Linked DNA regions of Homo sapiens. The protein of the gene in region 3 interacts with the protein of the main gene of each other region in a biochemical or structural test. Each region holds a gene or a part of one and is shown on either strand. Other genes may lie near its edges. The genes, in order: PLEKHH2, RSRC2, FRMPD3, AMOTL1, ARHGEF26, ARVCF and EFNB2.

Region 1 (4,606 bases), on a different chromosome or scaffold from region 3:
AATAAAATAAAATAAAATAAAATGTAACTAATATACAGCCTGAAAGGACTCTGCATATCTAATGATTACCTTGCAAGACTGAGCAGACCATTCCAGGACTGAATGCCTCAGACCCACCTGTGTGTGCTTCCTGGCCTGTCTGGCTACCTCCTGGGAGCTAGGGAGCTAGTTTTCTGAACTAAGGTAACTTAGTACTGGTGTATAGGTTTTTTGGTTTGTTTGTTTTTACTTTAAGTCACTGATTTTATAATATCTTCAAGTTATCCATTTAAAAACTAAAAGGCACTCAGAAAATATAACCCCTTGAAAAAAAGTGTGTGTGTGTTTGTTTTTTAAGCAATTATAAGGGGAAACAGTGACTATAACACAAAAGAATAGTTTGGTTTCCAGAAAATTTTCAGTGATCTTCTGATTATAGCCACAGGATTAGACCTGCCAGGTGAATTTAGTAATTCCTGCTCACCAGATTAAACAAAAAAGAGAATAAAATTGTATTAAATAATTAGACACATGAAATATGATAAAAAATGTAAATTTCGGGTAAATAAATGAACACATATAGATATCATAGTTTGAATTTAAACTATGTGAAAAGTGCTAAGATGCTATATAAATGACATTATAGGAAATTATAGAAATTGTTAAAGAAGCCTTAGTGAAAGTGAACTTAAACTTTGGTAATTAAAGTTCCCACCTTAATGATTTCTTACAGATTTTTATTTTACACAGGAAACAATCTTCTTAACACTTTTAAAAAATAATCATTTCATGAATGTAACCATGATCACAATTTAGTCATGGTATCAAGATTTTTCTCATACACAATAAACGACCTGTCTTATCTTGTTTTAAAAGGTTAAATTATAATCATAGCTGTATTTGTAAAATGACTGTTCATGACATAGTATTAGGAAGAATGTTTCCTGGGTAAGAGAAAAATCAGATTAAGATATCATTACTTTCTGTTTACGGTACACTGAGCAATGGAAACAGTTGACTTAATGCAAAACTTGAGCGTTTAAACTTACCATGGAGTTGTATTCTAAGAGGCTTAAACCATCCTCATGTACAGCCAGCCACAAGAAAGTACTTCCAAGTGATGATGGAGTTATGGGCTATGAAGAGGTGAAAATACACTATATTATAAATACTAAGCAAAATTACAGGAATATTTTTCAGTCTAAATGTCATGTAACATTTGCCATTAAACAACAATAATAACAACAAAAATTTATTAAAAATCTCGCCTAGGAAAGAGGCAGGGTGGTATACCGGAGCTAAGAGTGAATTCGATATTAGGAGACCTAGCTTTGAGACCCAAACCTGCCATATATTAATGTATGCATTTGGATAAACTACTGAATCTGTTTGAGGCTCAATTTCCTCATCTTTAGCATAGGAACAATAATGTTTATATTTTACTTTTCTTCTGCGTTAAGACGTTAATAGTCAACAAGTTTTTAGGGTTTCTATGATGACCAAAATCCTAATGAAGCAAAATATACTGATATGCTTGATAAGTTGTGTAGTGCTATTACAAGGTAAAAGATTATTATTATAATTGCACACCTTTCCTGAAAGTTTATTAAATCTGATATTCAATGTGTAATAAAAACACAATAACAAGAAAATATGAAACTGTGTAATCAATAGTAATGAGAAATATGAAAATTTCCACCGAATTTTTTATTGTAAAAGCTACGAAATTGACTGGGTGTTGTGGCTCTCGCCTGTAATCCTAGCACCTTGGGAAGCCGAGGTGGGTGGATCATCTGAGGCCAGGAGTTCGAGACCAGCCTGTGCAACATGACGAAACCCCATCTCTGCCAAAGACACAAAAATCAGCTGGGCATGGTGGTGCACGCCTGTAATCCGATCTACTTGGGAGGCTGAGACAGGAGAACAGCTGGAACCTGGGAGGCGCAGGCTGCAGTGAGCTGAGATAGTGCCACTGCACTCCAGCCTGTGTGACAGAGTGAGACTTCATCTAAAAAAAAAAAAAAAAAAAGCTAAAAGCTACTCCTGGTTCTCATAGAAAAAAAAAGCTATGAAATTATATTAATAAAAAGAATCTCCTACCACTAGAACCCAACTGAAACCCATGAATGTTTTTGAGCAATTAATGATGCTTGTTTGGTTCCATTAACAAATGAAATCCTAAAAAAAATCTTAACTATTTCCCTTAAATTTTACAAAACAATGTCAAGACTATAGATATAAAACTGGAATGAATGTTGGGTTATTTTATATAATAAAACTTGCTAGCATCTCATATATACAAAACCCTGAGTTAGAAACTGTCTACTGAGGGCTGATTTGCAAAGGATAGGGAGAATTCAATTCAAAAGGATGCCCTTCAACTCTAGTGTCCACTGACAGGTGAATGGATAAACAAAATGTGGTATATATATACCTACAGTGGAATGTTATTCTGCCTCAAAAGGGAAGGAAATTTTGACACATGTTACAACATGGATGAACCTTGAAGACATTACACTAAGTGAAATAAGCCAATAACAAAAGCACAAATATTATATGATTTCTCTTACCTGAAGTTCCTAAAGTAGTCAAATGCATAGAGACAGAAAGTAGAGTGGCAGTTGCCAGGGCTGGGAGGAGGAGGGAGGACTGGGGAGTTAGGTACAGTTTCAGTTTGGGAAAATAAAAAAGTGTTTAGATGAATGGTGGTGACAGCAACACAACAATGAGAATGTACTTAATGCCACAGAACTATACACTTAAAAATGGTTACAATGGGCCAGATGCGGTGGCTCACGCCTGTAATCCCAGCACTTTGGGAGGCCGAGGCGGGTGGATCACTTCAGATCAGGAGTTCGAGACTAGTCTGGCCAAAATGGTGAAACCCTGTCTCTACCAAAAATATAAAAATTAGCTGAGCGTGGTGGTGTGCGCCTGTAATCCCAGCTACTTGGAAGGCTGAAGCGTGAGAATCGCTTGAACCTGGGAGGCGGAGGTTGCAGTGAGTCAAGATTGCACCACTGCACTCCAGTCTGGGTGACAGAGTGAGACTCCGTCTCAAAAAAAAAAAAAAAAAAAAAGGTTAAAGGGTAAATTTCATTATGTGTATTTTACCACACACAGAAAACAGGATGCCATGAAGCAACAAAGGAGGTGTCGCTTGTTATAAAGAAAGAAAAGTGAGCAAAAAAGATGCTTGTCACGTAATTTGAAAAGCAATATTATTATTTAATAATATTTTGTGCCAGCAAGCACATTTTATCAGAACAGAAAAGGGTATTTAATATTACTTCCAATGCTGAAGTTAGAATTAAAATCCATGCTGCTCTACAGTTCAAATCTATTCCTTGTAATTTTAAAAAGTAACGTTCAACTTCCCGTAAGTACATTAATTTTATAGATGTTTAAGAATACTAACTTTATCATCTTTTTCTTAATTAGTATACAGCTTTCAGTTCCACTAGAAAAAAATTAATTCTCACCTATCAATAATATAGTCACTCATAGAATCAGAGTTAGAAGATACCTTAGATTTTACTTTTCTAATCTAAGTATTTCATTAACAGATGAGGAAAAGTGAGGTCCAGAGAGGTAACCTGACTTGCCCAAAGTTGCACAGCTATTCAGCAATATTTATTAAGTGATAATTATTAATTACGTGCAAAGCACTACAGTAGGTACAAGAGGAAGATTTTAGGATCAGTGAGTTTATAGTTTCAAGGAGCATGCAATTTAATAGTGAGTATAAAACAAACACACAGAAAAATATAACACAAGGCAAGATGTATCTTAAGAGCCTGAGAAAGTACAAAGAGACATGTTTCAACAGAAAGAAAAGGAATCAAAAGGCATAATTTTTCCCTTGGGGAAAGGGCTGGCCATCCCTGGGCAGGGTGGGTCTCCTTCCTCAGTGTTCCTGCAGCAGTCTGTTCATGTGACTCATAGTGATATTTGCCATACAGTGGTTTGTTTATAGGCCTGTTGTTACAAAGTAAAATAGTCCTGGAAGTTCATGTACAATCCATCTGAAACAATAGGTTATGTATCCCTAGAGCTTAGCTCAATGTTTAGCAGACAGAACTTAGTAAATACTAATGAGCAAATGAGTGACAGAGTAAACATGTGCATGGATGAATGAATGAACAGAAGAATGCAGAGTTCAGCTGTGGTTTAGGACTCATGATTCACCTAATGAGTCCAAGAAATGATTTAGGGTGGGAAAAGTTGGGCAGAGAGGAAAAGATAGAGAAGCTTTTCTGCCCTTTCTCTAGTGTCTCTTCATTGTTTTCTTTACATTATTGGATATTTCTTCATTTTTTACAAAAGCCAAGGATACTAAGTCTGGGGTAAATCTGGTCAACTATGTACACAAAGGTTTTCATTATGCATCTCTCTCCCATTCTTTCTTACTTTTGCAAGAAACAACTTGGCACCAAAGAATGGCCACTTCCTGGCTACTGTCAAATAAATGCGCACACAGTCAGCAGCACTGTGTCCCCGGAGGGCCATCCATCTGGTTGAAAGTCGCTGGCAAAGCTGCCTAAAAAAAAAGAAAAGAACAAAAACAAAAACACTAAAGCAAAAACATAAACAGTGTGTCATAGTCTTAAGATAAAACTCTCCTTGA
Region 2 (4,606 bases), on a different chromosome or scaffold from region 3:
AAATCGAGATCCAGAAGCAGAGAGAGGAAGAAATCGAGATCCAGAAGCAGGGAAAGAAAACGGCGGATCAGGTCTCGTTCCCGCTCAAGATCAAGACACAGGCATAGGACTAGAAGCAGGAGTAGGACAAGGAGTAGGAGTCGGTAGGTGACCATCATCCTGAATAAAATTTAATAGGACCCTCAGAGAGTCTGTTTATCTTCCTCAGTAAGAGAGTATTAAAATTGTGAGTCACAATTCTATTTATAGATTATGGTAAAATTATTTTAGTCATTACCTAACGTATGAAGAACACACCTAACCACTTGAATAGCATTCACAGGTATTCTCGTGATTGATAAATCTCTTGCGAAGTGCAGGTATGAATAGGCCTATTAAAATGCAGTTGTTGGCTAGGTGTCGTGGTTTACACCTGTAATCACAACGAGGCGAGCAGATTTTTTGAGCCCAGGAGTTCAAGACCAGCCTGGGCAATATGGTGAAACCCCATGTCTACAAAAGATATGAAAATTAGCCTGGGGTGATGACCCACACCTATGATCCCAGCTACTTGGGAGGCTGAGGTGGGATAATCACTTGAGCCCAGAAGGCAGAGGTTGCAGTGAGCCAAGATCATGCTGTTGCACTCCAGTCTGGGTGACAGGAGTGAATCCTGTCGTAACAAACAAATTCAGTTGTGTTCAACACTGGATTTGTTGTATTAATTTTATTATCACAAATAACTAAAATCTCCTTTTGCATACTTACCATATGCTGTATGCTAGAACTCCTTGCATGTTATTAGCTCATCTAGTTCTCAGAAGAACCATGTTGAAAGGTAAGTGTGTCGTGCTTAAAGACGTTTAAGAAATTTGCCCCAGAATTCCAAAACAGTATCATTATTAAGTGCTAGAGCCAGGAGCAGGTTTCAGATATATCTAAATGCAAATTCCATGCATGTGCTTAACCCACTGTATTGTACAAACTACCTCAGATTTTGTTTGTAAATGAACACAATTTAGATTTATCTTGATTGGTGGGAGGAGGCTTTGTTGAGATAGGAGGTGTACAATAAAGAGCACAGGAGGAAAACTAATTATAAATATTCTTCAATGAATGCGTTATTCTCTGCTTGTTTACATATGACAGTAGTATACTGACTTTTGTAAATTGATTGCAACTTAGGTCAGTGTATGAAAGATTGAAACATACATTTAAAAAGGGACCTGTACTTAATACAGTAACTTGGTTTTTATGATTTATCACTTGATCTTTAAATCAATATGAATTTTTACTCAGTGGTTCTAGTTTATAGTAGTTTACTACTTTGAACCTTACCAATTAAGAAATTTTTTTTTAAGTGCTTTTTTGGTCACTGACATCTAGTTTTTTTGTTTGTTTTGAGACAGAGTCTCACTCTGTCGCCCAGGCTGGAGTGCGATGGCACAATCTTGGCTCACTGCAACCTCTGCCTCCTGGGTTCAAGCGATTTTCCTGCCTCAGCCTCCCGAGTAGCTGGGATTACAGGCACCCAGCATCACGCACGGCTAAATTTTGTGTTTTTGTAGAGACGGGGTTTCACCATGTTGGCCAGGCAGGTCTCGAACTCCTGACCTCAGGTCATCTGTCCGCCTGAGCTTCCCAAAGTTCTGGGATTACAGGCATGAGCCACAGCACCCAGCCAGACCTAATTTTTAGTGGTTAATAACTTTTTATTTTTGAAAAACATCTACAAATTCACTGTAGATGAAAATATGTAGGAATGATTCCTGTGGTATACATATTGACCTACAAGAGCACAAAATGACTAATGTATAAGGCTAGCTTTTCCAACATTGGATATACTATGCAAAAGATTGGAAACAGCCAGATGCGGTGGGGCATGCTTGTAGACCTGTGTACTCTGGAGGCTAAGGCAGGAGGATCACTGGAGGCCAGCCTGGGCAACATGGTGAGACCCTGTCTCTTAAAAAGGGATGAGGGAGTTGGAAACAAATGTTATTTCCAATGAGTTCAGCTGTAACACTGATGTTTTAAATCTTTTGCATCTCAAACTAAATGTTTTTGTATCGTTGGGATTTTTGTTTGAACTAATTGATTTCTTATTAACAAAATAGTTATGACTTGGCCATAATTTGACATATGAAATACGATTTACTACAGAGATAGAAAGAAGAGAATTGAAAAGCCGAGAAGATTTAGCAGAAGTTTAAGCCGGACTCCAAGTCCACCTCCCTTCAGAGGCAGAAACACAGCAATGGATGCACAGGAAGCTTTAGCTAGAAGGTGTGTATATTTCTTAATTCATTTGTTCCAGTTCGCCTTTAAATAAATGCTCAATTGTGTGGATAAGATGAATTCTTTCAGTAAGAGAATGATTCACATACTTTAGTAATATGGTGGCATATTTGTGATCTAGAACTATGTAAATAGTTTAATTCTCATCCTAAACATTTGCACAACTATAAGATTGAGATGTCTACAATTTCTGTTTTTTCCTTCATGATTTAACTGATTTCATTTTTCTCAAATTTAGACTCCCAAATATTTTCAGTTTGCATTTGAAACTTTTTTTTTTTGAGTCTTAAATCTGGTTCAAGAACTATTATTTTCTCATCTAAGATGACTTTTCCTTTACTTTTTGTTTTTCTCCCTCAAATAGACAAAATACCTGAAACAGTAAGTAAAATTTTGTCAATATTATTATTTTGAAGATGGCAATTAACAGATAATACATTATAAGCTAATTTATTTGATCTTGTAAGTTTTATTCCTGGTAACTATGGGAGAACTTTTTTTTTTTTTTTTTAATTTTCTGCTGTTTCGGCCGGGTGCAATCGGTCACACCTGTAATCCCGGCATTTTGGGAGGCCGAGGCGGGCGGATCACTTGAGGTCAGGAGTTGGGAGACCAGCCTGGCCAACATGGTGAAACCCCATCTCTACTAAAAATACAAAAATTAGCTGGGCGTGGTGGCAGGCGCCTGTAATCCCAGCTACTCTGGAGGCTGAGGCACGAGAATCGCTTGAACCCATGAGGCAGAGGTTGCAGTAAGCCAAGATCGCACCACTGCACTCCAGCCTGGGCGATAGAGCGAGACTCAGTCTCAAAAAAAAAAAACACACACACACACACACACAAAAATAAATTTTCTGCTGTTTCAAAGATGAGTAATGGTGAAACCACACACAGCACGACTATATATTGAAATCTGCAAAACTATTCAAAGAACTGCCTCATAGAGAGGCAAAAAGTAAAATAAAATCCAAGCACTTGTTTGCAGTATTTCCCATATTTTGAAAAATAGACTTTTTAGGTTTTGATTTTTTTTTCTCTCGTTACAAAATTAAGGTGTTTTGTTTTTTGAGACAGGGTCCCACCCAGGCTGGAGTGCAGTGGCACATGATGACGGCTCACTGCATACTTGAATTCCTGGGCCCAAGCAATCCTCCCACCTCAGCCTCTCAAGTAGTTGGGACCACAGGCATGCCTGGCTAATTTTTGTATTTTTTGTAGAGAAGACGGGGTCTCCCTATGTTGCCCAGGCTGGTAACACAGTGTAACCTGATGTGCTTCCCTGGGAACCCAGCCTGACAGAAACTGCAGCTGAACAGCAGCAAAAGTGTGAGCTCACCCCTTCTTTCCATTCACCTTAGTGAATGGTATTAATTCCAAATCTTCAATGGCCATTTTAATGCAACCAGTTGTAGTCACACGTATCTTCTTTCTGAAACTAGTATGGAAATAATTTACTATAAAATTGGATTTAGTATATGCTAGATTGTAATTTCATTAACTCTGACAAATATTTTTTAAGCTCTTATTTACTTGAATGCCATAAGTCTATTCTGTTTGTGTTTTTGGATTTTTTTAAAAGTGAAGCCGTTAATAGCATCCAAAATGTCATTGATATATAGATTACTTGGTGATCTTTCAGATAAAGTTTTAAATGTAGTTCTTTAATTTCAGAATATGAGATTATTTACTACCTTGAAATCTGGAGAATTTTTTTCTTAAGAAACTACCATGTATAGACCTTTTATATTGGTTTCTTTTTTGGCTTAAAGGTCAGGATTTAAAACTGTTTAGGAAATACATTTCAGATCTGTGACCTACTTTTTTTATTTTTTATTTTTATTTTATTTTATTTATTTATTTATTTATTTATTTATTTATTTATTTATTTATTTATTTTTGAGACGGAGTCTTGCTCTGTTGCCCAGGCTGGAGTGCAGGAGCATGATCTTGGCTCACTGCAACCTCTGCCTTCTGGGTTCAGGCAATTCTCGTGCCTCAGCCTCCCAAGAAGCTGGGATTACTGATGCGCATCACCACACCCAGCTAATTTTTGTTTTCTTTTTAATAGAGACGGGTTTTGCCATGTTGGCCAAGCTGGTCTCGAACTGCTGGCCTCAAGCAGTCTTCCCACCTTGGCCTCCCAAAGTGCTAGGATTACAGGCATGAGCCACCTTGCCAAGCCTGCGACCTACATTTTATTGTTACTGCTAATTTACAAACTTTTATTCTCAAGGACAAAGTCAAGTCTATGTTATGCCTTCCATGCATATGTGCTTCATAAAAGGGAATAAAATTATAGCTTGTTATATTTCTTTTATGTAAATTTCAA
Region 3 (3,582 bases):
GGCCAGAGGCTGTTGCAAGGGATTCCATAGCCTAAACTGCGAGGCAGTCAGGCTGCACTCTGAGAGCAAGAAGGCACAGTTCAGAGGGAGAGGCCCCATTTCCCAACCCCAGTCTGAGGAGTGGCCTAAAATCCTAATTCCCAGGCCATCTGATACACTAGGCACAGAGCACACTGTGTTTCTCCACACAACCCCCCACACCACCTCCAGCCCTTCAGCTCTGAGGTCACAGCCATGGGGGCCAGGTGAGCCAGAAGCCTCGTGGTCAAGAGAAAGAGGTAGACAATTTCCAACTCCCATGAGAAACAGTAGGCTTCAAAGAGGAGCAAAGGGGATCCCCTGTGTGTTGGGGAGGTGGGAGGAACAGGGTCCTTAGCTCTCATCACCCACCAGTGCCCAGTACATAAGAGCAGGGGCCCAGGATGAGCACACAAAGGGCCACCACCAACCAACAATTCAAGGACACAAGGACACCCACAAAGAGGCACCGCAAAGACTTATTGGGATAGTAAGATGAATAGATTTAATCATTCTTGTTTGAAAAACAAGACATAAATTAGTATATATATAATTTATATATTTTATGTAGTATATATACTATATACAGACATTAGAAAATGTTTCCTCTCCATGAGGCTGAGGGAGAGGTGAAGGATGGCGGTGGAATGACACAGGCAGGGGCTGAGTGGCGAAGTTGGGAGAAAAAGAAGACCATATCAGCACTCCAGCTTGCAGTGGCTGAGGGGAAAAGGATTCCCCACTGGCTGCATCTCTGGCCCATTCAACAACTTGGTCCTGGGGGAGGAGAAGCAAGGAAGTGAGGGGCTGGATTCTGCAGAAGAAACTCCCCTCCTCCTTGCCGGGAGAACTCACCACTCAGGGAGACTTTATTGCACTAGGGGCTACCAAGGATGGGCAGGGATTAAGCACAGTGTACATCTTTATAAAACTCACATCAGAATGAAAGATTTCACATGGGCCTCTGACACAGTGATGAAACAGAGGCAGACACAGGGCACAAGGGTGTGGGAAATGGGGAGATATGGAGAGGCGGACGAGAAGCAATCTATACAGAAGAAACATTGGCTTTCTTTGTTCCCTACAGTGGGACAGTTGGTAGGGACTCCGTGTCTTCACTCCCAGGAAGGTTGCGGGGGTGGGGGGCGTGGGGGGAGGGTTGGCAGCGGTGGTGGCGGTGGTGGTGGCAGCGGTGGTGGCAATAGGAGGTGTGTGTCAAGGTGGATGTTAAACAGTGTGAATTCCCTTCCAGATGGCTCCAGAGAGGGAGAAAGGTGCAGGACTGCACCGGGTAAGGCGCTCAGCTTCTTTTCTTAGAGAGACAAATCCACAGGGTCAATACACAGCCAAAAGCATATACTCAGGATTAACATATCACGCTAGCTTCCAGAAGTTTAAGATATAGTCATCAACACCCCCCACCCCTACCCCTTTCCCCCCTCCCCCCACCCCCCTCCCCGATCCACAGCTAAGTCAAACTCCCAAGGACAGTCTGTCTGGTAGAGAGATGTTGAGAGAGAAGCCTCATGCCTGCAGCAACAGCCCCTGAGCTGGGCTGGGCCGGGCTAGGCGGGCTCCTAGGCCTGCACTGGGTCTCCCCAGGCAGACGTTTTCATCAGGTACCTTACCCAAAATGAGTGGGGTGATCCCAGATGCTTGCTCCCTAGTGGACTGAGCTGCCCTGCCCATCAGTGAGGGGCAGGGCACTTTGGGGATGGCTGGTGTGGAGCTACTGGACCTGGAGGTGAGGGCTCACCAGGCTGCCGGCCAGTTGGGCCGCTGCAAACAGCCTAGTGTGGCTGTTTTCTGCAGACATCTCACCCAGGCACAGGCCCTCAGGGTGGCATCTACCAGGTGAGTGTGAGCCCAAGGTGGATGGGGACATCTGGACTGAGCGCCCTCTCCCCTCGGCACGGCAATGTGGCCTGCTGCTACTGCCACTGCTCCCAGCAGGGGAGCCGATGCCACGAGGAGCTCAAAGCCTGAGGGTCCGCTTGCTTCAGGCCCTGGCTCCCCCAGCGCCCAACACGGATTGAGCAGGAAGTGAGCCTGATGTCACCTCTCAGCCCCAGAGAAGAGATAAAATACAGCTCTGCTGTGAGCAGAGTGAAGAGGGGCCTTTGCCCTCACAGTGAGGCCCAGAGGCCAGGGAAGGGGTGAGGACACCCAGGGCGGCAGCTAAGCCTGCAGCCCTTAAGAGAGAGCCTCAATCAAGAGAGTTTCCACTCCCCGGAGACTGATGGGCTCTTGGACCCTGACTGGCCCAGCAGACACACACACACTCACCACAAGATGCAAGGACCACAAAGCTCAAACCTGGGGCCATGGTTGGGGAAGGGGGACAGGTGTGGGCAGATGCCCTACTTAATAAGGGTTTTTAAGGAGTGGGTGAATGTGCTCATAACAGTCGCCGAAGTTGGGGAGCCTGGTGGATGCTCTGTGGCTGCCCCTGCAGCTGCTGCCACCTGCTGCTGCTGCTGCTGCTGTTGTTGTTGCTGCTGCTGTTGTTGTTGCTGCTGCTGCTGTTGTTGTTGCTGCTGCTGCTGGTTAAGGTTACGGGCTGTGGACTCCTCAGCTGCACGCAGCAGGAAGGTGTAGTTCCTCACCACCTCTTCTACCTTGGCCAGCAGCTCTTGGCGCTGGGCCTCGGAGCGCACAATGAACACCAGCCGCACGAAGGTCTCAATGAGGCTGCTCAGCACCTGGAAGCTGCCCGTGATGGCTGCCAGCATGTGAGTTGGGCTCTTGTCCACATTGGCCACACGGCGGCAGGAGGCCCGGAGCTCCTTGAACTTGAGAGCTAGCTCAAGCTTATACTCGGAGATCTGAGACACATAGGGCTTGGGGGCACGGGCCTCGGGGCTGGCCACACACTGCCGCAGGACTGTCAGCAGCTCGTTGGTGTCCAGCCGGGCAGCCAGGAAGCCATCAGGGAGGCCATAGGCATGGGCCCGCAGGGCATTGATCTTGGCCAGGCTCCCCTCGAAGGTGGACACACGGAGGTCAATCTCCTGAGTGCGGGAGGCCTCAGGGCTGCTGCTGCTGCAGGTAGCAGCATCCAGCACCTGCAGGGTCCTGCTCACCACAGGCACCACCTGCTCGTCCAGCTTCATGCCAGGCAGGATCTTCATGGGGATAGAGTAGGAGAGCTCATCCTTGCCATCACTGGCATCATCTGCCATGTCACACTTGCGGTAGTAGAAGCAGTAGCGGATGGAGCAGCACTTGCTGCTCTCACTGTCCTCGTCTAGCTCGGCAGGCTTCCGGTACACCTCCTCGGGCAGTGAGAACACGGCCATCTGTCTGGGGCCTTTGGTCTCTGGGGCAACCTGGACGTAGGAGGGGTCTCCCAGCGTCGGTGACTCCAGAGACCTGCTTTTGGGACCCAAGGCTATGGGGAGGCTTGCCTCTACCTCCTTGGCCTCCCTGGGCAGCATGCCCAGGGGAGGATGTGGGTAGACATCCGAGGTCAGCGAGGCCCTGTCACCCTGGTCCAGCTCACTGATACTGTAGCGGCGCATCAGTTTCCTGTAATTGGGAGCTCCCAGACACTCGCCCCCCGAG
Region 4 (4,606 bases), on a different chromosome or scaffold from region 3:
CTCTAGGCTTTTCTATGAGAGCCTTTTGTGTTATAAGGGTCACCTCAACTTACAACAATAATAGATAATTCTGATCTGAGTCAACCCATGGCTAAGAGCTACTCCAGTGGTGCAGTCTTTAGAATTTACACAATGCTTCCACATATCTATAACTGAAGTATGACTGATTTCCCTCCCCACTTCACAGATGAGTAAACTGAGACCAGGAACTATTCAGGGACATTTCCGTGTCCCATGAGTGGCAGAGAAGCTGTCTGGTCTTGCTTTTCCAATCATGGTCTGACAGAGGTGTGGGGCTCACCTATGCTCCCCTTCCAGGTCTTCTCTTCCTTCTTTTCCTCAGCCAGCTGGCTGCTGGTAAGAGAGGTCTGGCGAGAGTGTGTCCCAGTAGCTGCTGCTATGGATGGAACGGAGCGGGCAGGACGTAGGCTGGAGGAGTCTGTCTTCCCGGCATCTTTACGAGATCGCTGCTGCAGGACCTTAATCATAGCATCTTTCTCTATGATTTTGGCATGGAGATTTTTAATACTGTAAAACAAAACAAAACAGTCTCCATAAAAAGCCACTTGGCTAGAAAAACTTGAAACATTTATCTCAGGCTGTCCCAAAGACTTTAATTGTAATTTAGGGATACAGGATGAAGCACAGTACGAGTCTTCAAATGTTGATAATCTCCAAATTGTTAAGACAGGTCTTTTGTCATATGTCAAAAGAGTACACCTTCTCTGGCACCTTGGGAGACTGGGACTTCAGCGAGGTACAGTTAGAATGACCGTGGCCACATTCCTGGACCGAAGTCGGCTGGGGACCATATTTAGAGGGTCTAGCATTGGCGGTGGGGGCCGGGGGTAGGTAGGGGATAGGGAAGCATAAAAACTCTAAAGCCTCAAACAGGGTGAGCTTTCAGCTAAAGTCAATTTCTCTATTTTCTAAGAAAAAAGAACCAAGATGAACAGGTTCTCTGGTAGAAGATGATTTTTCTGGAAGAATGCTGAGTTATTTTCACAACTTTGATAGTAACTCACTGAGCCTATCTATCAATGGCTCAACTACTCAGCCCTATTTTCACATCTGCAAAATAAGAGGCCTAGGGCTCCCAGGGTTCCACAAGCCCTTAGGTAGTGAAGGGGGACAGGCTAGTTTTATTATGTCAAAAAGTCTGCTGGAAATTTTGTGTAGCCCATCAGAAGAGTGCATTAGCTAAATATGTTCTTTATTTTGGACTGGAATATATAAATTCTGGCTCAAAAACTCTGAATCTTTGGGATATAATGTTTCCCCCTTTCAGCTCATAATGTCATAGAGATAGACACCAAGAAATAACACAGACATCTAAATTCTTCTGTCACTAGACTCAGCCTGCATCTTAAAACCGGCAGGTGACACGCAATTTCCCCCAGAGAACTCCGGCACCAGATCCATTGCTGAGTGGAACCACGTGCTTAGGTTGGAACCTTTTCCTTCTCTCCATGGCACAGCATGGGGGAGGAGAGTTTTTGGAGACCTCATGCTCACAGCCTTTCAGAACAGGACAGAGAAGCAATCTGTTCTGGAAGGCCTGGAGTGTGAATGCAGCGGGCCCCACACGTCACACATAGTCGTCCCTTACGTGTATTCCATGTCCTGACACCTTCTGTTGGCCTGCACCACCTCCTCCTCCTCTTGCCAGATGTGGGCCTCCAGCGAGCTCTCTCCGTAGCTGCCATTCCGTGAGTGGTTGATGATCGTGGTGTCCCTGGCAACACAAGGATATGCGTTTGATCATAGGAAACCTTCTTGCTTTGTCTCAATGCAAACAGACACAGAATGGAGAGGCTGGTGTTCATGCTGGAACAGAGATCAGCTCTGCATCTCGCATTGGCTCATGAAGCCTTTCCCTCCCAATTTCCCCAGCTCAGTTATCAATCTCATCTGATGCCCATACAGAGAAAGGTGTAAATGCTTGTGGAGAGGTGATCACAGGGTGCCGTGCTAAAACTCCACAAACTCCTTCACCCACTTTTCCTCTCCTGAATTCTGTCCAATTCTCTTCCTTAACTAGATAGAATTAAGCAGCATCTAAGGAAAACAAAATAAAATTCAAAAATCAAGTCCCCTCCCCCTTCTGACTACATTATGTATGTAGCTACATGGCATGTTATGAATATGTAAAATGGGCACCTAGAGATTTAATCTACTGACTTATGGACACTATTATTATTATTATTATTATTATTATTGTATTTGTTGGTGTTTCCATGCTTGTACTTTTTCATGCTTGTCCTATACCTCACTTTTCCAATCAGAGTTTAGGTTTTATTTCTGTTTATCATCCATACAGCATAGAATGCCTACTTCAGTATTTTACAGTAAAATGGGGGCTCAGTAAATACTTAAAACTGAGACTGGTCCTCTCAGAGAGTGAGGCTCCAAGCTGAAGTCTTCCTTCATGTTGTATTCTGTCTCACTTCTTGTTTTATGGGCCCTGCCTGGGATGCAGGTCAGGACAATGTAATAGGCATGCCAGGGTCCAGGACAGAAAGAAGAAGGCAGACACTGTCCTTGACAAGTTCAGGTGAGGTGGGTGCAGTGAGGGCAAGGGCAGACACGAGAAGATCAAGAAGCAGTTTCACTGCAAGCATCTGTCTGACTATAAACAACCAGTCACAGATAACTATTCCTGCCACTGGTTTTGACAATTTAATTACTACTAACTAACAATGATTAGTAAAAATAAGATCACTGCATCATCTAAGTGATATAGCTCAAGATGAAAGGCACAATAATGGCTCTGACTACATGAGTATTTAATTAGTAAGACATGATGTAGCCAAGTATTTCACATCTTTTAACTTCATATTCCAATGTACAATCATACTGAAAAACTTTTTTTTTTTTGAGATGGAGTTTCATTCTTGTTGCCCAGACTGGAGTGCAGTGGCGTGATCTCAGCTCACTGCAACCTCCACCTCCTGAGTTCAAGCGATTCTCTTGTCTCAGCCTTCCAAGTAGCTGGGATTACAGACATGCGTCACCACATCTGGCTAATTTTGTATTTTTAGTAGAAATGGTGTTTCACCACGTTGGTCAGGCTGGTCTCAAACTCCTGACCTCAGGTGATTCACCCGCCTCAGCCTCCCAGAGTGCTGGGATTACAGACGTGAGCCACCGCGCCCCGCCTGAAAACTTTAAAGCTTTTTTTTTTTTTTTTACAGAATAGCCCAAAACAGAAAAATAGAGGCCCCTTTAATGACAGCTATCAACATTAATGAGCATTTACTTCATACAGGGACTGGGTAGGGCACGGTACACATGGTCTCTCATTTAGTTCTCACAACTTGTGCACAAGGTATTATTATCCTCAATTTCTAGATGAAGAAACCAGGGTTAGGTGACATTTCCAAGAATACTCAGTTAGTGAATAGTGAAAATGGATTCTAACTCAGGTATTTATGACTCCAAAGTCCATGCCCCTAACCATCGCTCTATACTCCTGCAAGTTTCATATGTCTTTAAGAAGAAGGTCTCAGCAAAGATGAGTAAAGATAAAAACAAACCAGAGGGCATATGTGAGAATGTGGCTCAGAAAAGTGCAAAGTGTCATTGAAAATACACTAAAGGCCAAATGATGTAGAAAGCAAACAAAATGCTTTAAACATATTTGCAAAATTATAAATTCACACTATGGTGCACAAAATCATCAATATAGAAATTAGTGGCTAGAAACATTTTCAACAAATTTACTTTTGGAGACTTTACATGGAGCTGGAAACAAATCTGAAAATTCATGTTTACATTGCCAAGTAAGGAGAGCAAACACAATTAGAGGAAAGCAACTTAGATAGTAAATATATAAAACTCTGAAAGAAATATTACATTGCTTTGAAATTTTTAAAAATTTTCAAAACCTTCTGCACACATAAAAGATAAGCTGACTCTCTAAAAATTCTGACCAACACCATCAAGATGCATAAAGATGGGAAAACCAGTTGGTTTACAGAAGTTATTTTCTTTGTTTAAAAATCATTGATTATAAATATAAAGCATGCATCTGTGGTTGAAAAGTCACAAAACTAATGGCTGGAAATAGTCATTTTTACCAATTTGACTGTGGCCATTTAGCACCTAGTCAATAAGAGCTCAAAATGTGTACCTTTCTCAAAAATGTTTCATTTTCCTTTTTTCTCTTACTGAAAAGAAAAAAGCAATTCTGAAATGACAGAGGTTTTCTTTGAAAAGAACATTAAGATTGGAGCTATCTGAGGTTCTCTGAACCTATTCCCCCACCCAGAAGGGGTAGTCTGTAATGGGGAGGGTAGTTGCTCACAGAATTATTAGATGCTCAATAAATATGTGTAAAAGCAAAGAAGGAGGGGTGACGGGGATGGAAAGGGGCTCCCTCTGCCCATCCAAGACTCCAAATAAGGCAGAGAAGGGGAACAGTGGGACTGGGTAAATCCCACAGAACTCCTGTTCTCTGGGGTAAGAGTCATTTCCCCTTGCACGGAGGATAAGAACAAGGCTGGGCCTAGAATCCTGTGAGTGGGTGATTGTGACTGGGTCTGGTTCTCCTCGCTCCCTACCCTCCCTCCTCTGCCCACTACAGGGTGTATGCTTTGGACTCATT
Region 5 (3,500 bases), on a different chromosome or scaffold from region 3:
GGGTGGGACTCACTCAATTGAAAGTCTCAAAAAGCTGCTCCTTTTAGTGATAGCAACAAGGAGTGTCTTGTTCTATCCTCTGGAGTCCCTGTGAGGGGTGGCCATGTCTAAGAGATGCTATTAGCATCCAGGCAGCATGCCACAGAAGTGAAAGATTTCATCTGGACTTCTGGAAACTGGCTGTAGGGCAAAGCCACTGCTGATACTGGCCACTCAGTGCCAGAGACGGTGTCTGTGTACAGGAAGATCTGCCTCACTGGCTCCAAGTTGCTCTAAATTGCTCCAGAAGACAGCAGTATAGGCTATGTATAATTTGTTTCAGTATGGCATAGAGAGACACAAATGGATCATTTTAGATTTCTCTTGGTGAGCAACACTTCTATTCATGAGGTATTTTGTTTTCGATTGGCTTTGTACTTTGCAAATTCCACTTGAGCCTGTGTAAAAAATAGATCTTATTCCCAATAAAGACATCATAGCAAAGATACAAGTGTTTGCCTGGGAATTATTTTACATGAAGTTGTGCTTTGCTTATTTCTTACAGAACTATTGTAAAGCCCTTTGTCCTGTATTAGAGAGAGAGAGAGAGAGAGAGGTTTTAAAAGCAAGACAGGAGCCTTGGCTTCTATATAAATTGTGCATATTACTACTTGACACACCATCTTGATCAAGGCCCAGCCTCATCTTAATCTTTGAAAATGCCTGTCTTTCAAGATACCACAGTTTCCACCCTTCCTGCCTTCCATCATTATTTTGTAAACACCTGCTGCGTAACACCACCTCTTTGATTTCAGACTGCCTGGGTTAGGTGCTTAACATACCAGACTTGCTTTGTCCTCTGAAAAAAATAGAAATAATTTTGGTAATATTTTCTTTTCAAGATTGTTGTAAAAATTAGATTAGATGATACTTGCAATTGTTTAGTACCATACCTGACACATAGGTGCTTCAGAATATTATTTAGAACAAGGCCCAATTCCTGCCATTCTGGAGTTTATAGCCTGGTAAGAGAAGCAGATGAGTCAGTAAATGATTGGGCTCAATATGTGATGAGTTATATAATTCATTCATTAGCAGACATATACTGAGCCCCTGTTACGTGTTGGGCAATGTTGTAGAGATAATGCAGTGAACCAAATGGATAAGCTGCCTGCTTTTATGAGGCTTACTGTTGACCAGCAATATAATAGAATTGTGCAGAGGGGTGCCCTAGAAACAGGATTATCAGACTGGGATGGAGATGGAAGGATTGGTTTATGTATCAGAGGAGCCCCCACTGGAGGAAGTGAGCCTTGTGTTTTCAGCATTGAGTGGATATATGTTGAGCAAAAGAAGCCAAATACAAAAGCATACATACTAAAGGATTTCATTTGCAAAAAGTACAAAAGAAGCATGGTAATAGAAATTCCATGGTAATGGAAAACAAGAGCAGTCACCTTTGGACAGAGGTTATTGATTGGAAAGGGTCAGAATGGAAATGCCTGGCGCATCTGTGTCTTGGTAAGTAAACACAGAGCTGTACACGCTTATGATTAACTCAGTTTATGTTATGTATGTTAAGAAATTTTAATGGCAATAATGAGTGGGCTTATCTACGCAAAAACAGGGAAGGAATAGGAAAGGCTGGGGCAAGGGTGCTATGTTCCAATGCGGTAAGTCATCCTCTCTGCCTGGGTTGGAAGGATGCATATGGGGATGAAGGTGGGGTGACAGCGACAAGCATCTGTAGATTCAGGCTGCTATGAGAGAAGAGTTTTTTTCCCCAGGTGTTGGTCATGAAGGCATTTTTTCTTAAGAATGTAGAGTGGCACAGTAGAAACTGACTTTGGTTTGAATTGCTTGCCTCTGAACTTCTGTCTGATCTTAGCATCCTTCAGATGGGCTTTTGAGAGGATTACATGGAATAGTGGATGTTGAGTGCAGTGTCTGACATGTAGCATGTGTTTAATAAATACATAAGAGAGTTAAAAGTATGTGTGTGGCGGGGCAGTATTTAATTAATTGTAATTTTAATACTTGGTGCTCAAAATAAAAAACCAGGGTGACTGCATTATGTAGAGAAGTGCTTGCTTATCTGAAACTTTTGATCCTTTAGTTGAATAATTATTTTTATGTAATTATAGCTTAATATTATATTAAAAGTATTGGTCATTTTTCCTGTGCTCATTAAACCATTTTAAGCATTTGGGAACAGTGTAAAAGTGGCCAAAGAATTTCTATTTCAGTAAGACTCATATTTGGCAAAATTAGTTGTATGAGGGATGAGACAACTAAATATGTCAAGTTTCTCAAGTTTACGGAAAGGTTTGAGTGTGTGGGAAGGGAAGTGGGGAGGAAGCAGAGAAATTAGTAGGATTTTTAAAAAATGAAACTTAACTGCTTTTGAAATGTTAAACATCAAATTATGGGTATGCTAAATACCTTTTGGAGTTATAATGTGTTCGTGTAATCAGCTCCTTATTAACTTTTAAACTGTCATATGGGAAGTTCCTTTTAATCAATAATGAGCCAAGTTCATTCAGACTCTTTTGACAATGATGACTAGTCTCCTGCTTATTTTAGACTTTCCAGCTTATCACTTTTAAACTACTCTCACCCTGTTTTACCATACCTCTCTAGAGAATCTCTTGTTTTCTGGGAGTGCCTTTGCATTGGCTGCCTAGAAAACACTCCATTCTGTGTTTTTACACCTTGAGTCTCTCAGTTGGATCTGCCCTCTGTTTTAGGAGCGAGCGAGCCCGCTGGATAACTGCCCTGGGACACAGCAGCGGGAAGCCGCCTGCAGACCGAACCTGTAAGTTCTCTCAAGGGGAAGCCCACTTGGGAACATGGATGGGCTCTGCCCCCTGCTGGACGCCGGGTTACTAACGAGTTATATTGCCACAATACTTGCCTAAGTTTCCTCCAGGGCTTCCTTCTGCTTTACACCAAAAATGTATGATCCTTGCTTTGGAAGTCAGGGGGTCTGAATTCAAATCCAAGGTGCATTTCTTTGTTGTGTAAACGTGTCAAATCATTGCTTAGCATTGCAGAGCCTATTTAACCATCTGCAAGTCAGTTACACCATTATATACAACATGGGGTTATTGTGAAGATTAAGTTAAATAATCTATGTTAAAAGCCCTACTTGAACTGTAAAGCCCTTAAATTTTTAGCTATTATCAGTGGGCAACAGTTGATCATGTTTAAACCTTCTACATACTGACAGTCTGGATTTAAGCTGAAAAGTATTTTTAATCTAAAAGAAAATTACCTAAGAATTCTTTTTGACCTTCTAAGAAAGTGTGTTTCACTATTCTAGAGAATTAGAAACTGGCGCAGTGAAGGGGGGTGTTGTATGCCTATTAGCTTCCTAACTTTGATGCTGTGGTTTCTTAGATTATTACAGTTGCAAGGTCAAATCCAAAGAATTAGAACAAAACATTGTTATCCTGGAACACTCAAAAATTATAGCTTTAAGCTTAGATTAAAAGCCAAAATGACTGGTTTGAAAGTTCCCG
Region 6 (4,606 bases), on a different chromosome or scaffold from region 3:
AGCAACAGGAGGCACTCTTCCTGGCAACCACTCCAAGTTCCCGGGCAACTGAGGCGCCGTCCTGCTGCTCTGCCCAGTGCTCCAGAAATGAGGGGTCAAAACAGCCTTCCAAGCTTGCCTGTCTCCAAACTGGGGCTTCAGCCTGGCTTGGGTACTACCTCGATCTCCCCTGTACCCACCCAGTGACATTTCATCACACCCTCGCCAGTCCTCATGCCCCATGCTCCCTCTACTCCTGCCCTGCTGGGCTTTCTGCTCCAACACACTCCAAGCACACTCCCCGCTGGGGTATCTGCATCAGCCCTGCTCTGCCTGTAATACTCCCCCACAGCCCTCCTGCGGCTGGAGCCCTCCACCCTGGTGACATGCAGGCTCTTCCAACTGGCTAGGCCCCACCAGGACAGACCTCTCTCTCAAGCCAGATCCCAGCATACAGCCCAATAGGCACTGCCCTGTCCCTGCAGGTGTTCGTCTGGCCCAGCCTCTGAACCTGGATGTGAGCATGCCCGCCTGGCTCCCAGCCCCCTCAGATAACTCAGCTTTGTGGCTAACACAGGAGGCCCTGCCTCCACTGGAGGCGTCCCTCCAAACCTTCCCACCTCTTACGCACCGTGAGGCCGAGCAAGCCCTCGGCCTCTCTGTGCCTGTCTCCCCCAACCTTGCCTGACATGACCCATGGCACTTCCTCCCATTCTAAACCCTCAGCAGGTGTCCTGGTGCTGAATCACCCTCCAGGAAATCCTGCACCTAGGGGCCTGTTTCCCCATCTGTTCCCTGAGGCCCTCCAGGCCTGCTTGATGGCTCAAAGCTTCACTACCAGGGCAATCCTGAGCCCAGACATCCCCCAGTGGAGCTGGCTTCATCTCAGCCCACTCACCTTTGGCGGCCTCAGTTCGCTTGGGCAGGTCTAGCGTGTCAAAGTTCCGGTCCATCTCACCATCCTTCTTTCCTGGAAGGGAAAGGTGGTGGGAGGTGAGGCAGACCCCATATGGGGAATGGGTGTATCAGGAGAGTTGGGCACAGTTCTCTCCTACCCAGGCCCCAAAAGGCACCCCCATGTCCAGGCCTGGGCACCTGTGGGAGTGGAGCACCGTTGTCAGAGTTTGGGCAGACAGTTTAGCCTAGGGGTAGGAGTTGGTGGCAGTGGGGCCTGGGGATGTCCCAGCCCTGCCCCTAGGACTCATCTCCCACCAGGTGCTGGGAGCTGTACCACAGACCCTCCCGGTGGCTCCCTTGCAACTGCCAGGTATGTAGACTGAGGGAAGCCAGGAGCCCTGGCTGGATGGTAGGTGGATACAAGCCAAGAAACTGAAGGCTGACCAGGACAAGACTCACTTGGGTCACACAGTAAGGCAGAACTAGGGGGAAACTCCCCCAGCTGGGGTCAGGACATTGTCCCAGGATCTACTAGCCAGGAGAAACCCCACAGCAGCCCACCTAACATTTGTGTAGCCCTGGCTTGCACACGTCTGTGACAGTGAGCCCACTGTCAACCACTCTCCCCATGTCAGATGATGCTTCTACCCCTTCAGAAGGCAGCAGAGTGGAGCCAGATGACCTGGGGTCCCTGCCCTGCTCACCCTCATGGGACCCTTGTATCCCTCCGAGCCACATGATGCCCCATTCTATCAGAGAAACAGACTGCTCCTTGGTGCCCCTAGAGATAAGTACCCCCGGGCCCTGCCCACTCTTGGCTCTGCCCAACTCTGCCCAGGTAGGCAAGTCTGAGGTTACAGAATGAGCCCCGTGGCCTTCCCACCTGCCACTGTCATAAAGATGGCAGCCCGAGTGATGAAGCCAGGGGTGGGGCAGGGCCCTGGGGCTGGAACGTGCTCGCCTCTTCCCAGGTACCCACTGCACACGCCAGGCCTGGAGAGCAGGATAAAAAGGGACTCACCTTGGTGGAACCACTCCTCTGGGAGGCCGGAGGAAGCAGAGGAGAGAGGAGAGGAGCCTGAACAGGCAGCACTCATCACCCCCCCATGCCCTCCCGGAAGCCTCAGGTTCCCACTGCACACCCTGGATCAAGCAGGCAGCATGTGGAACCTCATCCCATCACTTCTGGGCACTGAGCACCCACCAGGGGTACAAGAAGAGGGAGGCCTGGGGTCAGTGGGGCAGGGGCAGGTGGCGTACAGGTCCCCCACAGCTGCTGGGGAGGTCCTGGGAACCTACACCCTGCTAGTGCAGTAGAGAAGGTGTGCAGGGCATCTTGCCCAGGCAGATGGGGGGCTGCCCCACAGGTTGGTGGCAGTCTACAGCTATTCTGTGAACAGTGAGCAGGCAGCAGCCATGGCTCCTTCCCAACTCATGGGCAAGTGGAACTCTCCCCGGAGTAGAAAGACTGGGTCTGGGCATTGGTTGGTTTCCCTTGTGTACTCCCTGGGGGTCCCACAGTGTAGATGGGGAAGGTTGGACCTGGGTCCCATCAACCATGTGACCCAGGGCAGTCCAGCCTCCTTGACTCCTGGCTTCCCTGCCTGCCTGTTGGGGGCTGACCAGGTGTCCTCTAGCCTCCATGATGGGCTGCTGTGGGTGTACAGAGAGCCTTCCGCTGGGGCAGGAGTTGAGATGGTAGAGATGATACCCCAGTCCGCCCCACCCACCTTTGGCCTTCTTGCCTCCAAAGCAGCTGGCATCATCCCGCCTCCGGCGCTGGGAGCCTACAGCACTGCCCAGGGGCCCGGGCTCGGCCTCCTGGTACCTGTCGGCCCCGGGCACCTCCTTGTGCACGTGGTAGGACAGGTTCCGCATGATGCACACGCAGTTCTCCACCGACTGCAGGGAGAGGTGAGTGGGTGGGGCAGGGCACCCTAGGCACAGGGCTGGCCCTCAGGAAAGACTGGCCACAGCTGGTGTGCATGAGGGCACCGGGAGCAAAGGAACAGGGAGTCCTCAGTGGAGGGGAGCAAAAGGGCGGTAACCGCCAGGAAGGGTCCATGGGAGGAAGCCTCTGCCCTCACGGCACACCTTCTGCCTGCAGGACGGTGCCCACTTCAGTGTGGTCACTGCGAGGCGGGCCACACCCAGAACGCCACCCCAGACCCACAAGCCCATTCCCCTGTGCTGCTCCCACAGTTCCAGCCTCCTGGGACCTGCATGATCGTCTCTCCAGCCCTTGGTATGAGGCTGTGACCGTCCCTGCCCACCTTGTTGTCAGTGTCCTTCCGGCCCACAGCCGACTGCAGGGCATGCAGGAGCGCGTCCACCAGCCCTTCACACTCCCGGAGTCGCCGCCGGGCCTCAGCACCATCGGAGCTCACATTCCTGTGTGGCCAAGAGCAGGCCAGGTGACCCCTGGCTACCAGAAACTCCCTGGCTCCACCCTGGCCTTGTGGGCTTGTCTTCATCTGCAAAATAGGCCCTGCTGCTGCCCTCCTAGCACTAATGGGAAAGGACCCCACAGTCTGGAGCTCAGTGAAGGGGGAGAAGCTAACTGCCCCCAGGCCTCAGGAGGGGAGCCCTGGCAGACAACTATCTTGGCTGGGGATAGCTGGGCAGGGAAAGACAGGGTTTCCCTGCCTCCCAGCTGACCTGGAAAGGGACAGGTGCACTCTCAGAGAGACCTGAACCTGTGCAAGGGCAATTCTGGGTCCCTCGCCACCCCAATGGCAGCTCTGGGCCCCACCTTACCCCAAGGTCAAGAGCCTGCAGGGCTGCGCGGGAACACCCTGATGGACAAGCAGGACTGTGGGGACCCAGGACTCTGTGGGGTCAGCAGGGCCTCCCAGGGGTAGGAGGGGAAGGGCAGAGGTCACAGGTGGCTGGGATGAGCCTCCCAGGCAGATGAACAGGAAGGTCCCAGCTCCCCCTCTGGCTGTCAAGTGATGGGAAGGTAGGTGAGAGCTGGGCAGGGCTACGGTACCACAGAGACCCCTCCAGAGGGTGCCCCTGGGAAGACTGGGACACCACTTGGGGGTGAGGACAGCTCCATCAGGCCCCACTTCTCATCCACAGGACTTGTGCCACAGCTCTGAAGCTCCTAAGCTCTGGCGCTCCTAAGCTCGCCGCCATCTTCCACACTATCTGGGACCACGAGGACGGGGCCTGGTGTGCATGTGGGCTTTAGCACCAGGTCTGGTCCACACCTCAGGCAGCCCGACGTGTTCTTGAAGACAGTTGTCCACTCGGCGTCCCGTGGCTTGGAGTCCTCGTTGGGCTCACGCTCCCATCCTGAGTGGGGCACGATCACCTCGTGGGTCAGCGTCTGCAGGCCATGGTCAATGATGACCATCTTCAGGGGCTCATAGGATGACAGGTTCCACAGGGTGCCTGTGGGGTGCGATTGGCCAATCTGTGCTGACCATATGCACCGCCTGCCTACCTCCCCAGGTGGCCACGCTCAGGACCTGTCCCACTCTCCTCATGTCCCAGCTCATGCAGAACAGTAGGAAGTAACAAAAGCCGTGAGTGGTTCCGGGGGACACCCAGTACTGGTTTCCAGCTAGGAAGGAGCCCCAAAGGGGAGGAGGTGCAGAGGAGGGTGTGGCAGTGCTGTCCCGTCCCACCCATTCCCTGCCATGTGGCAGGTGGCACTAACACTCCTGAGGCCACAGGGCCTCACAGAGACACGGTGACCCTACCTGTCCCTCAGCTCTCACAAGGC
Region 7 (3,500 bases), on a different chromosome or scaffold from region 3:
GAGGGAGCTGGGTCTGAAAAGATGGCTGAAATCAAAAGGTCTCTGTTTTCTTTTCAGATAACCCCAGCCCTACCTATCCCCTCTGGTCTCTGTTCCTTCCCAGCATGTCCCTGCCTGAAGCCCAAATAGATTAAGGCAACGACCGCGAAGTGCAGTTAATCCTACAGAACGGCTGCTGCTGTTAGGCCAGGAGTTAAAAAGGAAAATCTCCCAGGCCCTAACAACTGCAGTGATCTGAAGTTTTAATCAGCCCCAATCTCAATCTATAAAAAAGGCAGTCAATGAAATCTACCTTTGCCATATTATCCACCACCAATGAGCAAGAACTGAGCAGCTTTTCTTTACTGCCTCAGCCATCCCAGACCACAAGTAGAGCTTTCATACTTCCTAATCCCAGTTTCCAAGTCTGTGTGGTTCTCACATAATGCCCAACAGCCTGGAGGCAAGGGCCTTCGTCCCGCGCCCTTTTCAGAGACGTGTCATTTCTAACATCAAGCTAATCTATATGTTGCCATGGCTTCACCCTTTATCTGCCTTTACATCTTATGAACTGCATGGATTTACCACATTATTTTTATCTGAAAGACAGAAAATGGTGGTTTTATTGCCATACAATCAGATTACTGCTGCTAGTTTCTCTATGCCTTTTTACTATACTTCAATCAAAAGGGATCAGTTTCTTTATACTCTGCCCTTGATTTACATCACATCTGTAAAGACCTAGTCTGAGTTGTAATCCCCTTATTAACTATGACCAGGGTTGATTTGCCTAAAAATAAAAGCAAATTGTGTCAGACCCTTTCACTTTGTTTTTGATTCGGAACTACAAAATGGATTACTAAAGAAATCTTCAGAGTTCACACGGCTAGTATCGTGCTGAATTTAAAATGAGAATTAAACAAGTTAAACAGGGGAGGCATGTCAACGGTTTACATCTTCCATCATGGGAGAAGGGCTGAATTGCTTATGTCTTTGTATTCTTTGGCTTTATAGAGACAATGAAGCCACAGGAGTTTTTCCAAGCTGTTCGGAACATGTCCCATTTGCTATCCTTCCTTCTTTGCTGTTCTTATATTCCTCCCCCAGCCTCCTTCTAATTCCCCCCTTAAAAAGAAGGGGGGAGCTGTTCCCTGAAAGAGCTAATTCCTGACTAGAAGCTTATAGTTCTATGGGTTCTGCATATTTTAATCAAAATATTTTAAACAGTTGAGCACTCCTCTTTAAGGCTCTACTCCGCTACACAAAGGGTGAGCTCATAAGCAAATCTATGTAGATGTATATTAAGTGACCTGAAAAACAGGTTCTTTATGTCAGCAGCAAAGGCAGGCAGAGATTAGGCTGATAGGAGGACCAGTTTAATCACCTTCCTTAGAAGAGCACTTCTATTTGTCTAATTTGCAATTAAGTATTTTAAGAATGAAGTTCTCATAAAACGTTAAAGAAATATCTTTCCTAAAAATTTTTTTATTAGGGTCTACAATCTGTATTTCCTTTTCCCCTGCCACTCCCATTCCTATGACGCATTACTGCAGTCACGCTGGGATCTCGAATAGTTTCCCATTAGGTGAACGCACTCTAAAACGTCGCCCGAAGTTTGGTGTCATACTGAAGCTCTCGGGAGCTACCTGGAAGATTTCAGAGGAAGGAAAGACAGCAAGGATTTAGTTGCTCCAGTTGCAATGTCCATCTGAAGGCAATTATCTCACTGATCCACCAACCGAAGGATGCACCTCAGTAAGTTTACAGACAAGAGGTTTTAATATAAATCCACCAATTGTTCTTCAGCTGACTCTGTCTGGAGGAACCATTCAAACACATAGTTTTTAGCAAGCTGGTCTCCAGGCCCATGGCGAATTCACCTGTCCACACACTTTAGCTTAAGTCAGAAGCCTCTGGAAATGTTGGAGTCATCTGCATGTCTTTGCGTCGGCAGAACCAGCGTCAACAGCTTATGCTTTGTAAAAGATTTAGAACCAGGTGCTTAGCAAATCATCTTAACCTCCAGCTCCTGTTTCTGGGGCTTGAAGCTGTAACTGTTGAGGTTAAGATGTGCAGTCCCTAGACACATGATTCTCAAATAAATTCTCATCTGAAAAGAAGGCTACCAAGCATGTTGTGAGGTATCGCTTTAGCTTAGTCTTTGTGCTCTGCCTGGCTCAGTTGTCCTGCAGAACAACGACAGTCCATTACCTACAGTTTATCATCCTGACAAAATGTGAGGAATGTGGATGTGAAAGCACTAACAATTCCACCCCTGGTGCTTTGAGCTTTTTTCTCTCTATATTAAAACCGACAAGATTAACCCAAACGCAAACTGTGGAGCATAGTTCAAGGGGCTATTCAATCAGTGCTGAATGTGCATTTGTTTACCTACAAAAATAAGAATTTCAGACACAATGGAAGGCAGGCTGGCTTATATATGTTATTGAATGGACTGTTTAAACAGCACTATCCATTGTAGTTTATTTTATCAATCTCTGACAGGTCTGTATTTATTCAGAGCCTGATTGTGGTGAAGCCCATGTATTATACGTTATCTGGATATCATCCAGCCATTCTTTTGTATCAAGTCAATTAGTATCAGGAATCCAGTATTATATAGGGAAAAAATTACATGGGAAAAGCAAAATGCTATGTTAACTAACTAGTATGTGATGCACAGGGAATGGTAACCCCAGACATAAGGCATTAGTACTCGAAATTTTCAAAGTCAGTGTAATGCATTGCAGAACACCATACCAATACAGATTTGCTCACATTAAAGTAAAATTAATTTTTTTTTAAAAAAGAGCCCACTACTTTACTTAGGCCAAAATCTCCCTCTTGGAAGAAAATGTTCTACTGAAGTGTTAAGTTAAAAACGGAAGCTAGGCATTACTGTTCTCTGCTGAATTAAAAAAAAAACAAAAAAAAAACCAAAACTTTAAACAACCAAAATGGCTACAACGGACCCAACTCTACCAGAACGTATCAAAGCAATGTGAATAACCTAACAGGGCAGCTACTGTTTCAGCACGCAGGACATCTTTCCATTATTACATACAGTCAGGGACGGGAGAGCCGACAATGTGATTAAAGTAGTTACGGAGACGCTGAATTTACAAAGGGTTTTCTGGACCCTGTATCCAAACAGCTGCTGCATGCTCCCTGTGTCGACCACCTGCTAAAAAAGCTGACCTCTGAATGAAACAAATCTAATTACTGATGGCGGCTTCATTACAAATGAATTGTTCCACAGTTCATAGGAACTGATGTGAAACTTCAATGCATTTGATTACCTTCCTGCCACATCATATTTACCGATTCAAACTTTCCTCTGGAAATAAATATAAAACTTCCCCAAGGAAAGCGACCCCCTGTCATCAGGGGGTTGTATGCATTCTCAAAAACTTAGAGAGGACTCTTTCCTATGGCTCCTACAGGAAGAAATCTTTCTGATCTCTGGAGCTAGCATTCAGCTGCAAGGGAGACCTTTTCCAGGCACACATTATCCAGTCATC

What was found.
Region 1: the proteins of FRMPD3 (region 3) and PLEKHH2 interact in a test that uses a peptide from one of them, tested with the Homo sapiens proteins (one large-scale study listed by IntAct).
Region 2: the proteins of FRMPD3 (region 3) and RSRC2 interact in a test that uses a peptide from one of them, tested with the Homo sapiens proteins (one large-scale study listed by IntAct).
Region 4: the proteins of FRMPD3 (region 3) and AMOTL1 interact in a test that uses a peptide from one of them, tested with the Homo sapiens proteins (one large-scale study listed by IntAct).
Region 5: the proteins of FRMPD3 (region 3) and ARHGEF26 interact in a test that uses a peptide from one of them, tested with the Homo sapiens proteins (one large-scale study listed by IntAct).
Region 6: the proteins of FRMPD3 (region 3) and ARVCF interact in a test that uses a peptide from one of them, tested with the Homo sapiens proteins (one large-scale study listed by IntAct).
Region 7: the proteins of FRMPD3 (region 3) and EFNB2 interact in a test that uses a peptide from one of them, tested with the Homo sapiens proteins (one large-scale study listed by IntAct).

Annotation. Positions count from the first base shown.
Region 1 is NC_000002.12:43,758,813-43,763,418, reverse strand, and holds part of PLEKHH2 (pleckstrin homology domain-containing family H member 2), read right to left. Parts: intron 4,520-4,606; coding exon 4,390-4,519; intron 1,116-4,389; coding exon 1,029-1,115; intron 1-1,028. UniProt on the Homo sapiens protein: In the kidney glomerulus may play a role in linking podocyte foot processes to the glomerular basement membrane. May be involved in stabilization of F-actin by attenuating its depolymerization. Can recruit TGFB1I1 from focal adhesions to podocyte lamellipodia.
Region 2 is NC_000012.12:122,512,764-122,517,369, reverse strand, and holds part of RSRC2 (arginine/serine-rich coiled-coil protein 2), read left to right. Parts: coding exon 1-143; intron 144-2,142; coding exon 2,143-2,265; intron 2,266-2,641; coding exon of another isoform or gene 2,642-2,654; exon of another isoform or gene 2,655-2,658; intron 2,659-3,495; exon of another isoform or gene 3,496-3,603; intron 3,604-4,606.
Region 3 is NC_000023.11:107,602,170-107,605,751, reverse strand, and holds the end of FRMPD3 (FERM and PDZ domain-containing protein 3), read right to left. Parts: coding exon 2,379-3,582; 3' UTR 501-2,378; downstream 1-500.
Region 4 is NC_000011.10:94,861,864-94,866,469, reverse strand, and holds part of AMOTL1 (angiomotin-like protein 1), read right to left. Parts: intron 1,736-4,606; coding exon 1,610-1,735; intron 529-1,609; coding exon 302-528; intron 1-301. UniProt on the Homo sapiens protein: Inhibits the Wnt/beta-catenin signaling pathway, probably by recruiting CTNNB1 to recycling endosomes and hence preventing its translocation to the nucleus.
Region 5 is NC_000003.12:154,250,390-154,253,889, forward strand, and holds part of ARHGEF26 (rho guanine nucleotide exchange factor 26), read left to right. Parts: exon of another isoform or gene 1-838; intron 839-932; exon of another isoform or gene 933-2,726; coding exon 2,727-2,794; exon of another isoform or gene 2,795-3,500. UniProt on the Homo sapiens protein: Activates RhoG GTPase by promoting the exchange of GDP by GTP. Required for the formation of membrane ruffles during macropinocytosis. Required for the formation of cup-like structures during trans-endothelial migration of leukocytes.
Region 6 is NC_000022.11:19,974,809-19,979,414, forward strand, and holds part of ARVCF (splicing regulator ARVCF), read right to left. Parts: exon of another isoform or gene 4,584-4,606; intron 4,273-4,583; coding exon 4,089-4,272; intron 3,268-4,088; coding exon 3,150-3,267; intron 2,779-3,149; coding exon 2,607-2,778; intron 1,916-2,606; coding exon 1,898-1,915; intron 1,870-1,897; coding exon of another isoform or gene 1,769-1,869; exon of another isoform or gene 1,760-1,768; intron 950-1,759; coding exon 878-949; intron 1-877. UniProt on the Homo sapiens protein: Contributes to the regulation of alternative splicing of pre-mRNAs.
Region 7 is NC_000013.11:106,529,163-106,532,662, forward strand, and holds part of EFNB2 (ephrin-B2 isoform 1 precursor), read right to left. Parts: intron 2,894-3,500; exon of another isoform or gene 1-2,893. UniProt on the Homo sapiens protein: Cell surface transmembrane ligand for Eph receptors, a family of receptor tyrosine kinases which are crucial for migration, repulsion and adhesion during neuronal, vascular and epithelial development.